2 linked regions of the Homo sapiens genome follow. The protein of the gene in region 1 interacts with the protein of each later gene in a pairwise test. Each region holds a gene or a part of one and is shown on either strand. Other genes may lie near its edges.

What was found. The genes of interacting proteins can lie anywhere in the genome.
Region 2: the proteins of CSNK1D (region 1) and SERPINH1 interact in binary tests that used the Homo sapiens proteins (3 or more experiments, as listed by UniProt).

The regions. Positions count from the first base shown.
Region 1 is NC_000017.11:82,270,681-82,277,840, forward strand, and holds the start of CSNK1D (casein kinase I isoform delta), read right to left. Parts: upstream 3,021-7,160; 5' UTR 2,702-3,020; coding exon 2,626-2,701; intron 1,423-2,625; exon of another isoform or gene 1-1,422. UniProt on the Homo sapiens protein: Essential serine/threonine-protein kinase that regulates diverse cellular growth and survival processes including Wnt signaling, DNA repair and circadian rhythms. It can phosphorylate a large number of proteins.
Region 2 is NC_000011.10:75,557,486-75,565,272, forward strand, and holds the start of SERPINH1 (serpin H1 isoform 1 precursor), read left to right. Parts: upstream 1-4,767; 5' UTR 4,768-4,834; exon of another isoform or gene 4,835-4,893; intron 4,894-4,987; exon of another isoform or gene 4,988-5,531; intron 5,532-6,241; exon of another isoform or gene 6,242-6,285; intron 6,286-7,787.

The DNA.
Region 1 (7,160 bases):
CACCTCGCCTTTCCTCCGTGGGGTCGTCTGAAAGGACCACAGTGTAGGCTAGGAGCCAATGCTGATGGGAAAAAAAAAAATCAGCTGTGCCTAACCCCACTCAAGTAACTGGACGTGTACCCTGATGGGTGGCTGTCTGGGACGGCTGTCTGGGGGCTCCAACCCCAGGGTGTCAGAGCCACAGCCGCCCGCAATCCCGTATCCAGCATGACTGTATGCCCAGCGCGAGGTGAGGCCTGGAGGGTAGAATGCTGAGTGAGGAGACAGCCTTCCACCCTCCACCTCTGGAATTACTTGGTGACAACCACACCAAAATTTGTCTTAATCTATCTTTGGAAAGCACAAAGTTGTTTGACAAGGTCTCAGATCAGAGAACAGATAGTTTCAAAGTACTTCTTATTTATTTATTTTTTGAGACAGAGTCTCACTCCATCGCCCAGGCTGCAGTGCAGTGGTGTGATCTTGGCTCACTGCAACCTCCGCCTCCCAGGTTCAAGCAATTCTCGTGCCTCAGCCTCCCAAGTAGCTGGAATTACAGGCAGCCACCACCACGCCTGGCCAATTTTTGTATTTTTAGTAGAGATGGGGTTTCGCCACTTTGGCCAGGCTGGTCTCCTGACCTCAAGCGACCCGCCCACCTCAGCTTCCCAAAGTGCTGGGATTACAGGCGTGAGCCACCACACCCGGCCCAAAATACTCCTTTTTGATGCCTGCCTAAAGGTGGCTAATGGACTGGCTTTGCAGTGTAACTCAGATCCTGGGGTTAAAACTTTCGCCAAAATCCATTGTTCTATAAATAAGCCAAACGACTTCCATTGACCAAGCACTCTGACTTCCCAAACACTGCCAAGAACACATCCAGCTGACCACCTGGTATAAATGTTTAATAGCCAAACCCAAATGTCTAAAGCCTGCTTACTCAGCAGTCCACTAAGGCATATGTACAGGTTCAAAAGCAACAATATGGCATGTGACAGGGTCACCTGGCAGGTTAACCAGGCACCGAAAGTATGAGCCACCCATATGTGTGGATTCGTCCTAACGCTGTCAGCCCACCGGGTCCTGAGTCCTCTCTCTGGTGACAAGTGGGAAGGGTGTGAGAACTGGAGACTGTCCACATGTGGCTTCATCTAAAAGGTATGACCAGAGGCATTACTGACATCCCAGGGGATTCCTGACCCTAGCTGACAGGTGCCCCAGTTAAAACACACCCCAAAGCTAGGGCTGCTGGAACAGAAAACAGCTCCCCTCAAAGGTCTGCAGCAGCCCCTCTGCAGGCACACCGCCTCAGGCTACATATCCTCAAATTCAGGGGATCTTGGAATAACTCGTGCATTGCACAATCCCACTAACAAGTGCGGAAAATTAAGTTACTTTAAAATTACAAACTTGGGCCAGGCGCGGTGGCTTCCCAGCACTTCGGGAGGCCGAACTGGGCGGATCACTTGAGGTCCGGAGTTCGAGACCAGCCTTGACCAACATGAAGAAACCCCGTCTCTACTAAAAATACGAAATTAGCCAGGCGTGGTGGCGCACGCCTGTGATCCCAGCTTTTCGGGAGGCTGAGGCAGGAGAATCGCTTGAACCTGGGAGGCAGAGGTTGCGGTGAGCCGAGATCACGCCATTGCACTCCAACCTGGGCAACAAGAGCGAAACTCCGTCTCAGGAAAAAAAAAAAAATTACAAACTTGAAGATTTAAGCCAACCTTTCATCACACTTGTGTTCACGTGCATATTTTTCCATTGTAAATATGACACAACCCAAAACCTTCTAATCCCATTGTTTTTGAAATCTACCTTGAGACTGTTACAGTCTAAAGGACACCTCATGAGTACAACTACCTCATCTGCCTCTCATCTTGCCAGCATCTTAATCCTGTGTGACTTTCTCTACATTCACCTAAACTTAACCCTTGCTCATTTGCACTCAGTCACCGCTCCAAGGCCAAGGGGAACCGTTCAGAGAGAACCCCCAGCGGGAGGGCAAGCCCCACTCCTAGCCGGGCCACTCCCCCGCTCCACACGGCATTTGGGTCTTTCTGACATTTTCCCCCACGAATGCAAGACACCGGGGCAGCCTCTGAGGGGGCAGCCAGACAGCCCCGGACCGGGCTGCGGAAGAAAGAGCGTGGCCTTTGTTTACTGCGGTGACCTTAGGCGTAGAGGAAGCCGACGCCCGCTTCGCGGCCCCAGCCCTACCCCCTCCCCTCCCACGGCCCGCTGCCCCCACCCCCGCCCTGCCCCTCCCCCAGGCCCGCCTCCCCACGCCCCACCCAGCCCTTCCCGAGTCCGCTCCCCACGACCCTGCCCCTACCCAGGTCGGCTCCCCAGAGACCATGCCCCACCCCGGGTCAGCTCCCCTATCCCCTCCTTCCCCAACCCTCCCCTCTCCAGACCCTGCTCCCCCGACCTGGTCCTGCCCCTCCCCCACGTCCGCTCCCCACTGCCCTCCCCACCCCTGGCCGCGCTAGCCTAGTGGCCGTTGGGTTCTGGCCACGATCCGGCGGTGCCGGGACTTGCGCGGAGACCCCGCGGGGGCCACCACTTCCTTCCGCGATCGCGCTTGGTCTTGGCAGCCGCAGGGCCCGGGTCTTCGGGCGGCGGGCGGGGGCGGCGGGGCCTCACCGAGATAGATGTCTCCGAAGGAGCCGCTGCCGATCTTCCGGCCCAGCCGGTACCTGTTCCCGACTCTCAGCTCCATGGCGGCGGCGGCCCGATTCGCTCCTGCCCTCCCGGCCGCTTCCTGGGTCTGAACTCTGGGAGGCGGCGCCGCTGCTGCCGCTACTGCGGGTCCGGCTCCCGGCTCCGCCCCCCTCACGGCCCCGCTTTCACCATCGCTTTCCTGTCGCCCCGCCGCTCCCAGCGCCTCAATACGGGGCGGATGGGACAGTCCGAGCGCCGCCGCCGCTGCTCCGGCCCCTACCGGTCCCGCTTGCCCTCTCCCCGCCGCGGATGGACTCGGATCTTCCGGGCCTAAATCCCCTTTCAGCTGCCTAAAGGAGCCGCCGCCATCGCGCTGTGACGTCACTTCCCCTAGCAACCCGGCGGGGCGGGGCCGCGGCGCTCCAGGGGCGGGGCCGGGCGGGGCGAGCGCTCCAGGCCTCCTCCCGACCCTGCGCCGTGCCCAGCCCCTCTGCCCTCCTGTTACCCCGGGACCTCGGGCCGCCAGCCCCTTCCACGTGCAGGCTCCTGCTGCTCTCGCGGGGGCTTTTCGTGTGTCCCCCGAGATGTCGAGGAAGCCAGGTGAGTTCCTCGCGACAGGCGGTGCCCTTTGCAGGAGGGGACAGGTAGCTGAGGCGTGGACAGAGTGACAGGCCAGGCTCAGGGGACACAGGTGAGACCCCCTCACTGGGCTGCCAGTTCCCGGGCTTGGGGCATCCCAGTACGTCAGCGTCTGCGGCCTTACCTCCTGACACCTAAGGCCAGAGACAGAGCAGGCCCGCGCCCTGGGAGGTCCTGATGTCCAGCCTGAAGATTGAGGACAAAGCCACCACCTTTCACAAAATGAGGCCAGACCACCTGCCTCCCTCCAGTCCCTGCGGCCTGGAGACGGAGTCAACATTCTTATCTGTGTTGGATCTGAATGTTCCTCCTTGCAAAGGAAACAAGGAGTGGACGTTCAGGCTGATGGCCAGCTTCAAAGATCGGGGCCTTTGATTCCCATCACTGGGAAGAAAGCCCTTCAGACAAGCCCCCCCAGGCTGCAGGTGCATGGGGACCTTGAAGAACCCGTCCCCATGGTCCCACGTCCATGTGTCTCGAGACCTGTCGCATCCTCGCTGAAACTCAAGAATGTGAAACAGGTGAAGGTGTGTTTTGACGCATTAGCATACCAGGGCTGTGGTGTGGGCACCGCCGTGTGAGTGAGACAGCAGCCTCAGCCCGTCCAGGTCACTGCAGAAGAGGAAAGCAGCCCCCACAGGCCCCACAGTGGTGCTCGCCTTTCTCCACCCCCCAGTCTTTCCTCTCCACCCCTCAGCTCCAAACAGCTGGAGGTCAGGTCGGGGAGACGGGCGTCCATTCCCGAAATTACATAGCAGGGCCTGGAGACAGGAGATGCCGCCGGCCAGACCACCATCAGTCACTAATGAGGGATGGGCAGTCGGAACTGCCCAGTTTCTGAGTTACAGAAGCCGGGGGTGGGGGGCTGCCAGACTAGTAAAACTGACCTTGTTGGCGGAATCGCTCACGGCTTTTCTGTTGATGAACAGAGTCCAGCTCTCCCACGGGTGGCTGTGATCCTTCTTCCTGGGGAGTCCTGCTGTCCCTGACTAGGGGCACCTGCCCACCTGTCAGCTGCTCCTCCCTCGGCTGGTCCTCCTGGGCTCTGATGGCCCCAACATTTCTAGCTCTTCTCACCCATAGTGCCCCAAGCTTCATGCAGCTGCGGCAGGTACTGTGCCCGTCTGCCTGGCTTTTGTGTGTTTGTGTCTTGACTCTATAACCCGTGCACACGGACTGGGCTGTGGTGTAGTGGGGATGGCAGGAGCCCTGGGAACATGCGGGCTGGGCAAGGTGAGGCAGGCTGATTGCTGTGGCTCCCCCACCACCAGCCCCAGCCACAACAAACTGACAAAGGAAGAGGACAGTGGTACCCTGGAGCCCTGGGGTCAGAGAGAGGAGGACAAAGCAGGTGTGTAGCCCAGGGAATGACAGCACCCCTTCCGAGAAGACAGGGAGGGTGCAGACATGGCCAGGTTCTGAGCTAGAAAACTGTCAGCAGGGGGCTGAAGCTGAGGATAGTCATTGCCAAGGAACAGCCTCCGTCACAGAGGAGACGCACAGATGCGGTGACGAGGGAGGGATGCGGGGCTGGTGACCGCTGGGAACGGATGTGTGAGGCAGAGTCTCCAGGCATGGTCTGTGGGGCGGTTTGATGATACTAGAACATCTCAGAGTAGAAGGACGTCCCGACCTGCAGACTGGAAAGCCCCCAGAGCTCCCGGCAGGACGTATGAGGGCCAGCCCACACCCAGGTCTGTCCTGATACAACTGAACGCCACAGTGTCTTAGCTCCTTTACTGTTGCTATCAAGAAACACCTGAGGCTGGGAAATTTATGAAGAATCATGAGGTAATTTGTATATTTGTCCACACTAAACCTCATGTTGAATTGTAAACCCCAAGGCTGGAGGTGGCTGGGTCATGGGGGTGGATTTCTCAGGAATGTTTAGTACCATCCCCTTGGTGCTGTCCTTGAGATAGTGAGTTCTCCTGAGATCTGGTTATTTAAAAAGTGTGGGGCACCTCTCTCTCTCGCTCACTCGCTCGCTCGCTCCTGCTCTGGCCATGTGACGTGCCCGCTCCCCCATTGCCTTTCACCATGATTGGAAGCTTCCGGAGGCCTCCCCAGAAGCTGAGCAGAGGCCAGCACCATGCCTCCTGTAAAGCCTGCAGAACCAGGAGCCAAGTAAACCTCTTTTCATTATTTATTTATTTATTTATTTATTTATTTTGACACAGGGTCTCGCTCTGTTGCCCAGGCTGGAGTGCAGTGGCGTGATCTCGGCTCACTGCAACCTCTGCCTCCTGGGCTCAGGTGATCCTCCCACCTCACCCTCCTGAGTAGCTGGGACTACAGGCACACGCCACCATACCTGGCTAATTTTTCATATTTTTTGTAGACATGGGGTCTTACTGGCCCAGACTGGTCTCAAACTTCTGAGCTCAAGTGATCCATCCACCTTGGCCTTCCAGAGTGCTGGGATCACACGCATGAGCTACCATGCCGGCCCTCTTTTCTTTTAAAATTGCCCAGTCCTAAGTATTTCTTTATAGCAAGGCAACCACAGCCTAACACAGCTCACGATGCTGAGGTCTCAAAAGTTCAAGATCGGGCGTCTGCCTCTAGTGAGGGCCTTGCTGCCGCTGCCTCCACTCATGGCAGAAGGTGAAGGGCAGCTGGAGTGTGTGCAGACCGTGTGCGAGAGGGAGCTGGAGGAGTAGGGAAGTACAGGCCTTTTTTTTTTTTTTTAAGATGGAGTCTCGCTCTGTTGCCCAGGCTGGAGCGCAGTGGCGCAATGCCGGCTCACTGCAACCTCCGCCTCCCGGGTTCAAGCGATTCTCCTGCCTCAGCCTGCTGAGTAGCTGGGATTAGAGGCATGCGCCACTATGCCCGGCTAATTTTTGTATTTTTGTAGAGACGGGGTTTCACCATGTTGGTCAGGCTGATCTTGAACTTCTGACCTCGTGATCCGCCCGCCTTAGCCTCCCAAAGTGCTGAGATTATAGGCATGAGGCACCGTGCCGGCCGTGCAGGTGTTTTTAAAAGCACCTCTTGCTGGAACTAGTAGGAGTGAAAACTCACTCATTACTAAGAGGACAGCACCAAACTGTTCGTGAGGAATCTGCCCCCATGACCCAGACACCTCCAACACTGGGGCTCAGATTTCAACCTGAGGTTTGAAGGGGACCAACACCCAAACTATAGAAACAGAGAAAGAGGAAAGTTTACAGATACCCATTTAGAAAGAATCTGCTAACAAAGGGAAAGAATCAGGCTGGGCGCGGTGGTTTATGCCTGGAATCCCAACACTTTGAGAGGCCAAGGTGGGTGGATCACCTGAGGTCAGGAGTTTGAGACCAGCCTGGCCAGCATGTGAAACCCTGTCTCTACTAAAAATGCAAACATTAGCCAGGCGTAGTGACGTGCACCTGTAGTCCCAGCTACCCAGGAGGCCAGGCAAGAGAATTGCTGGAGTTCATGAGACAGAGGTTGCAGTGAGCAGAGATCCTGCCACTGCACTCCAGCCCAGGCAACAAGAGCGAGACTGTGTCTCAAAAACAAACAAACAACAACAACAAAAGGAAAGAATCAGACTGGCTTGGGACTCTGCTGTCCCCTGCCCGTGACCTCCCAAAAGCGTGTGTTAGAGACTGACCTGCCTAGTGCGTCAGTGGAGGGGGCACTTTGGAGAGGGGCTTGGATCGTGAGGCCCCGCCCTCGTGAATGGCTCAGTGCCTTGTGAAAGGGCTTGATGGAGGGAGTTTGGTCCCTTTTCCCCTTTTGTCTCTCTGCTGTGTGAGGACACCATGTTCCTCCCCTCTGGAGGATGCTGTAACAAGCTGTCATCTCGGGAGGAGACACCAGGCCCTGACCAGACGCTGAACATGCCAGCACCTTCATCTTGGACTTTCCAGCCCCCAGAACTGTGAGAAATA
Region 2 (7,787 bases), on another chromosome or scaffold:
ACCTGGGGCAGGATCCCAGGTCTCCTAACCCCCAAGTGAGGGCATTTCACACTCCATAGCACAGCAGGGCTGAACTGGGCTGAAGCAGATTAGAGGTGGTTTGGCAGGGTGTAGGGGGTGGTCAGAGCTCAGGAGTCCCTTTTCTGAGTGTCAGGGATGCTAAGACAAGGGAGGACAGCCCTGTAGCCCACCTGGGCATCACTGTTATTACAGGCTCAGCAGCACCTAAGGGAGAGGAGAACAAGACGGGAAGGGAAAGGCAGGGCTGTAGTTAACACACATCCTCCATCCCACCAGCCCTTCAGGCCTGGTCTTGCAGGCACTGGAGCTGGTTCCATGGGTTGCCAGAGGAAGCCTGAGAGAGGGAGGCTGGGAGAGGGGGCGGGGAACCTGATCCTGTGTATATGTCAATACCCAACAAAAACTTGTGTAGGGGGGTGGGGTGCATTTGGGTTACTGGAGTTACACAGACATGTGTGTACATGGATTGTGTGAAGGGGCTGCTCAAGTGCCGTGTGTGCACCATGTATGTGGGTGCACATACGCCTGTGTATATAGCGAGTCAGTGGGCTTGTGTCTCCTGGGTATTGTGCCAGGCATGTGGGTGAAGGCGCTGGAGTTCCTATGTGGCTTCGCTCAGCACCAGGATTGCAGACGGGTAGGGGCGGGCCTGCTCTGGGAGGAGGAGGGGAGGAATCATGTGCCCACCCACCCCCACATGGACCGGCTGCCCACCCTCCAACGTGGCAGCACGCAGGACAGCCCTTTTTGGATGGAAGGCCCCACGCTCCAAGAGAGAGAATCCAAGATTACAGAAATCGTGTTTTCCTGACTCATGCCTTGGGCTGAGAGCACATTCTTGGCTCCTGGACAGCATCTCAAAGAAGAGCTGCCTATAGCAGCCCTGGCTCCCTGAGGGAGGGGGCCGACCCTGGACTGGCTGTCGGAGCTTTCTGGGCTCCAATTTTATACCAATGTAAAAAGAAGGGGATTAAACTTCCTTCCGATTAACGTTCTATAATTAAAAGTGAGACACTAATGACGGTGCCCAGCACAGGCCTGGCAGCGGCAAAATGGCCCATAAATGTCACTTCCTTCTCGTCCACTCCCTGCCTTCCCGTGGATATGGCATAAACAGACCTGATTCAAAACCCAGCTCTGACTCTGGCTTGTTGTGTGCCCTTAACCCTGTTGCTTAGTCTCCCTGATCCTCAGTTTCTTCATGCTGAAAATTGGAACATTCTTCCTTACCTGAAAGGAATAAATATGATAATAAATGTGAATGTGTTGCACACTTAAATGACATGCAAGTTTTTGTCCTAGGATTCTATGGGGTGAAGACTGAGTGAATCTAGCCACTGGGGCCAAAGAAAGCTGTTTCCACAGCACCTGGCAGAACTGGGCCTACATACCCCCCTGGGTCATTAGAGGGTACTGTGGGAGAAAGAGGGCTGGGAGTCCAGGGCTTAGGCTCCAGCCCAGCCCCACCTCTGATATGCTGTGTGACCTTGGGTAAATTCCTGCCCTCTCTGGGCTTCCGTTGTCCTCTCTGTATAGTGTGGATGCAGTTGGACTTGATGGTTTTCTACTTTCTGCTGTCCACACCTCTCGGGACCTAGGGATCTAGAGGATTTCCAGCCAGCCTCCACGTGCCAGGCACCAGGACCACTTCCTTCAGTGAAGCGAGGCACTGGAGGAGTCCAGAGACAAAATGCTTGAGAGTTTCTCTGCTTATCAGACTCTTCTCCCCCACCCCCTAAAAGAGTGCTTTTTCCGGAAAGCTCTGCCTGGAATGTGGGGGAAGGGCCACAGTCAGTCTGGGCTGGGCTCAGAGCTAAGAATATTGTGGCAAAGGCTCTTGACTTTTTTTTTTTTTGCTGATCTTGGAAATTTAAAGGAGCCGTTGCTTTCCCTTCTTCAGGGAGGCTGTGCTAGGGGCACAGCAGCCTCAGGCAGCCACTTCTCATCCCCTGGCCAGCCATGCTTACCCAGTGCCTCTTCCATACTGTCCCCTTGCTGGAGCTGGGGACTCACAGTGACAAGGAAAAGGCCCTGCCCTTCCAAAGTCTCCAGTGATGGTTCACTGACAATACAGGGTGATAACAGAGATAATGCAGCAGTGGGATAGGTCACAGAGGAGGCTTCTGACCCGGTGTGAGATTAGTGGGGGTCGGATGGGGGTTGGGCCTTCAGACCCAGCCCTCCTTAGGCCTCAGCTTTGCTGTCTGTAAGGGCAGGTCCTCTCTTCAGTGACCACTCATGATACTGGGTCTATTTAACAGCATGAGCTTTGGTTTATCCCTCAAAATGGGACAGTCACAGCACTCTCAGTCTCCCCCTCAGGTGTTGGTGAAGCCTAAAAGAGCTAAGAGATGTAAGAGAGTAGAGGAAGGGAGTCTCACTGGGATTGTGACATCTGAACCTGCTGAAAACCCAGGCGACCCTCTCTGTTTTGCCAGCATTGATGGGCACTCTTTGTTTCTGCTCTGCCCTGCCCTCAGCTCACTGACCAAGTCACAAGGAAGCCTGAGGGCCAATGTGGGGGTGGGAGTAGAGAGTGGGGTCTGGCCTGGGACCCGGGAGGTCTCCTTGGATAAACAAGAATTTATCTTTTTTTTTTGAGATGGAGTCTCGCTCTGTCACCCATGCTGGAGTGCAGTGGCATGATCTCGGCTCACTGCAAACTCCACCTCCCAGGTTCAAGAGATTCTCCCGCCTCAGCCTCCTGAGTAGCTGGGATTACAGGCACATGACACCACAGCTGGCTAATTTTCATATTTTTATTAGAGATGGGGTTTCACCATTTTGGCCACGCTGATCTTGAACTGCTGACCTCAGGTGATCCACCCACCTCGGCCTTCCAAAGTGCTGGGATTACAGGCATGAGCCACCGCGCCCAGCCTAGAATTTATCTTTAAAAGCAATATACAGTTGAGGCAGGAGGAAGCACATGAGAACCACGACAGCCACCCCAAAGAGATGGACACCATGCCAAGGCTGGAAGCTTTTGTTAATAATCAGACCTGTCCTAAAAAAGAATGCGGGGCTGCCTCTGAAGGAGGTAAGCTCTCTCTTCTTAGAGGTGCCTCGGTGCTTGCCTTTTTGGGATACTGAGAAGAGGGCTTCTGCCTGGGGCTGCAGACAGGAACCCCTGACCTCTGAGATGCCTTGCAGCTCAGAGTCTTTAATACATTTATTCCAGAATCCTTCGACTCTGAGATTTTAACATGTTAAGATTCCTTAGCTGGATTCAAAGACTCCTTGGGGGCTTTGAGTGGAAGTAATCTCTGATTCCTTGACCCTGAATCACAGAGTCTGAAGCTTTTGGGATCTGAGATTTCCCACAGTCCTTGTACTCAAAAGACTCTGAGCTGCAGAAGCCTACCCAGACAGAGAGGTTTGTCACCACCACCAGGCTTCCCCACAACCACTAACAGAGGGCAGGGACCCAGGTGATTGACTCATTTGCTGGGTACTGGGATTTTTTTGCTCCCCAGGATCCAGGCAAGCACCTAGAAGAAAGAAGATACTCAATGCATTCATTCATGACTGAATGAATGAAGAGTCCCTACCCTGTCCCTTCCTCTCCATACTGCGTCCATCCAATAGCTATCATTAAACTACTAAAGAGGACTTTTCGGAGGGTAGGGAGCCTCGGCTGATCAGAAATTGAGCCACTGTCGCCCAGATTATTTAGGGTTTCCTAAATAATCTGCCTCACTGAATCACTGAATTCCCTACTAACAGGTACATACCCCACAGATGGACATCGCACAGGGCAAGGACTTTGTTCAGCTCTCAGCTGTGTCCTCAGCACCTAGAACAGTAATGAATACCCTAGCTTAACTTGGAGGTCAAGGAGCTATCAGTTTGCGAGGGTGGGGTAGGAATTGACAGTGAGACCTGAGGCCTGTGGGAGGGGACCCAAAGAGGGAGGGGATGCAATAGGGAGGGGGCCAGGGGTGACAAGGATTGAGGAAGGGAGAGAGGGGGGAAAAAAAGCAAGGGATGCCTTAGAACCACATTTCACAGCCAAGGGAACAGAGGCCCAGAAAGGGAAAGTAACCTGCTTAGGGTCACACAGCACCTTGCTCAGTGGAGAGCCAGGTTTTCCTTCCTGTGCACTCCTCCAAGCCCAGCCAGACCACCTGAAGTTCCCCAGGCATCTCTGCCTCTATTACTCCACGACTTGAACTTTCCGGGTGCCGGGCAGGTACCGGGTCTGGTCTGCTCCCTCTCCCTCTGGCCATCGCTGAGGTTGAGGTTTTTTGAATGTACAAGTATGGAGAAGGGCACTGCCTTCAGAAGCCTGAACGTCTCCCCTGAGAGGGAGGGGGTGCACAGGACTCAATTGTTTCAGCTTGAAAATGGGGGAGAGCGGGGAGAAGGGGAGATGGCTCTGCTTGGGGCAGAGCCCCTGCGGGGAAAGGGGCGCCTGAAAGGACGTGCGATTCGGAGTGGGCTAGCTTATGCAGAGAGCCTGGGGGTGGGAGGAAGCTCGCACTCTGAAGGACACGCTGATCCCCGTGGGGACTCCCGGCGCCCCGCAGCCCGGGCCGCCGAGGGAGGCAGTAGGACCCAGGGGCCGGGAGGCGCCGGCAGAGGGAGGGGCCGGGGGCCGGGGAGGTTTTGAGGGAGGTCTTTGGCTTTTTTTGGCGGAGCTGGGGCGCCCTCCGGAAGCGTTTCCAACTTTCCAGAAGTTTCTCGGGACGGGCAGGAGGGGGTGGGGACTGCCATATATAGATCCCGGGAGCAGGGGAGCGGGCTAAGAGTAGAATCGTGTCGCGGCTCGAGAGCGAGAGTCACGTCCCGGCGCTAGCCCAGCCCGACCCAGGTGAGGGGCGGGAGACGCCTGCGTGCGTGCGGCCCGGGGGAGCGCCGAGCAATCTGGGGGTGCGCGAGGGAGTAAGAGGGGCGAGGGGACCCTGCGAAGCGTTGGGTGCCGAGCCAGAGCCTACAAATTGGAGTCCTCGGCACTTTGGGGGCCGCTGGAGGGTTTGGAATCGAGAGCCCAGGGCTAGCCAGTGATGGTGCCAGCTGAGGGCTAGGGCGGAGATCGGAGCCGGGTTGGGAGTCCGTGCACTCGGAGGACTGGGAAAAAGTGCAGGGACCCCTAAAAGGTGGTGGTGGCAGATACGAGACTAGGTGCTGTGTAAAGGGGGCTGGGGGCAGAGAGCAGAGCCTCTGCGGAAAGAAACAGAGGAGGAAGGAGATGGGTCTGGTGCCTCTTCCCGCAAGGGTAGGGAGGATAGGCCGGCCTCGCAGTTCCAGGTCACTTCCGTTCTGGGGTTGAGGCTCAGGGGCAGCGGTGATTGGTGGCCCAGCCTCCTCACAGGCTTGCTGAGGGAATTTGAGCTTCCGGTGGTGGGAAAGGAGGTGAAATCGTCTCGACTCCTGGGGTCCGTGTGCTCTGGTAGAAGTGGGCGACAGTGGCTCAATTTCTGATCAGCAGCTTGCAGCCTAGATGATGGCAGCCAAAGGAAAGACTTGGCCAGCGAGGCTCCCTACCACTCCGAAAAAAGAGAGTGGGGGTCAGCAGGGTCTGCTCTGCTCTGGGGATTAAGGGGCTGACTAGAAGGATTTGAGTCTTTCCTTCTGTCCACTGCCACAGGGTTCTTGGAGTAACTGCAGGGTTTAAACTGCAGGGTCTAACTTCCAGAGGCTGGGGTTCCCTGCCCCCCAGCTTAGAGACATTCCTGAGGTGGCTGAAGAGCAGGAAGGAGAATGAATGCACTTCCAGACTGGCCCAGAGTCTCAGCCCCTCCTCTTCCTTGTTTCCCGCTGGTCCCTCTGGGCTGTACGGCCCGGATGGAGGCCTGAGGAAAATGAGGGGGCTTTGGTTCTCCGGAATTCCGGCCGGGGCCACACCCTCCTGTCTTCAGATGGTTCATGTACCCATCCCCCCTTCCCGTCCTCTCCTTTGTCTCCTCTGTCACCGGGACTCCCAGCAGAGATTTTTTTTTTGTACTGGCTGTGTAACAGGACACCGCATGCAGCCCTCAGGAGGGGCTCTGTGCTTCTGTGAGGAAGGACCCCTGTGCTGGGAAGGCAGACCCCTGTTTATCCCGAGGGACCTGGGGTGACCCCCTGCCCTGGCCTTGTTTCTCCCATTTTACAGTGAGGTGGTCGATCTCCAAGGTCCCTGTAGATTGGGGACTGGTTGTGCCCTCTGCGCCAGGGGCCTCCTCACCATCTCTCCTTTGCCGGCTCCCGCCCTCTTCACTCTTCTGTTTTCTTTCAGAATGAAAAAGGCAGGCATTGACCTCCCTCTGAGGCAGTTTCCAGGTACTTTAGACCTCTCAAGTGTTTGGGACCCTCTGGTGGGGTCCCATCATCTCCTCCCCTTCCCTTCCAGACCCTGCTCAGTCCAGCTAGCTGTGGGCACAGCCCTGGCTAGGTGATCTTGTATTTTCTTTGTGGGACTGTAACTCAGCTAACCTTGGCCTGAGGGCTGGCATTTCTCTGTGGCAAGATGGGCTGGGCTGTGGGAGGCTGGCCTGCTTGCAGTAACTTGCCTTCCCCCATTCCTGCTGCTGGGTTCAGTGGGGCTGCCCTTCTCCCCAGTAGCGCATTTCCCTTCAGAGATTCATGTGCGGATGGGAAGGGAACTAAGGCCAAGAAGGCTCCTGGAGTCCCCTGGCAAATATGTGGCACCCCCTGGGACCTGAGTCAGGCCTGCTTCCCAGGCTGGAAGCCCCCCTCTGCCGGCCGGTGGAGATAGTTCAGCCTCCTGCCTGCCACGTCACCACCAGGAGCAGGCGCTAAGCTGCTGCGGGCCTAGCGGGCTGCCTGAGGAATCCCAAACCAGTTATTTGGAGCTTGCTTGAGAAGCCCCTCCCAGTCCTTTGAGGTTCTGGCTGGTGGGGGTGGGGGCTGTCAAGATGGTACCTGCCACGTGGCATGGCTGGGAGTGGGCTCTTCAGCTGCCTCCTCAGGGAAGGAAGGCTGTTGGCCTCTGCTGTGGTCTGAGCTCCAGCATCACTGGTCTGGATCAGAGGTGGCTTTTGAGTAGGGTGGCCATATGCCTATTGTCCTGGCATAATAATTAGTAGTGCCCATTTTACTCTTATAAGTGTCCTTGTTTGTGCAATAAATTATATGGTTGCTCTGCCTTTGAGGCTCCAGTTCTGGCAGGGAAGGAGCCAGAGCTGGGAGGGAGGTGTCTTGGGGTTTATTCTAGGCCCCAAGATATCCCCTTCATTTTAGGGTGAGACTCAGATCTCCCCGCTCCTTCCAGACATTTTTAGATCTCTGGGCCTTCCCTCCTCTCCCCACCTCCCTCCCCTTGGACCCTTTGCTTATCTTATACTGCACCTTCAAGGCTCCGAGGAGGGAGGCAGTCCCGGGAGATGGGGAGCCTGTCCAGGTTTTTGGGATGGCAGCAGTAGAATCTTCCCAGAAATACAGTGGTCCCCAGGCAGCCAGAGTCCTGAGGGTCTTCCACCAGGATTTCAAATGTTCGGTCTTCTTCAAGGATGACTACAAGTTGGGATCTACCAGAGCAGTGGGATCGCAGCCTCCACCAGGATTCCTTCTATCCTTCCCTTTGCCCTGTCATCTCTCCTGTGCTGTTGCATGATGTAGAGGAGGATAATGGCCCGAAGGGAGAGAGGGAGTGTGGAAGTATCCCAGGAACAGAGACTGTCCAAATTGGAGGCCCCAGAGAGGGAACTGGGGCTTGTCCTTGGGGCCACTGCTACTGCTGGGGCTTGGGGAGGAGGCCTGAGGGCAACCCTGAAGCCGTGGAGCAGATGGCCTGTGTGGCAGTGGCTGTCAGATTGGAGGGC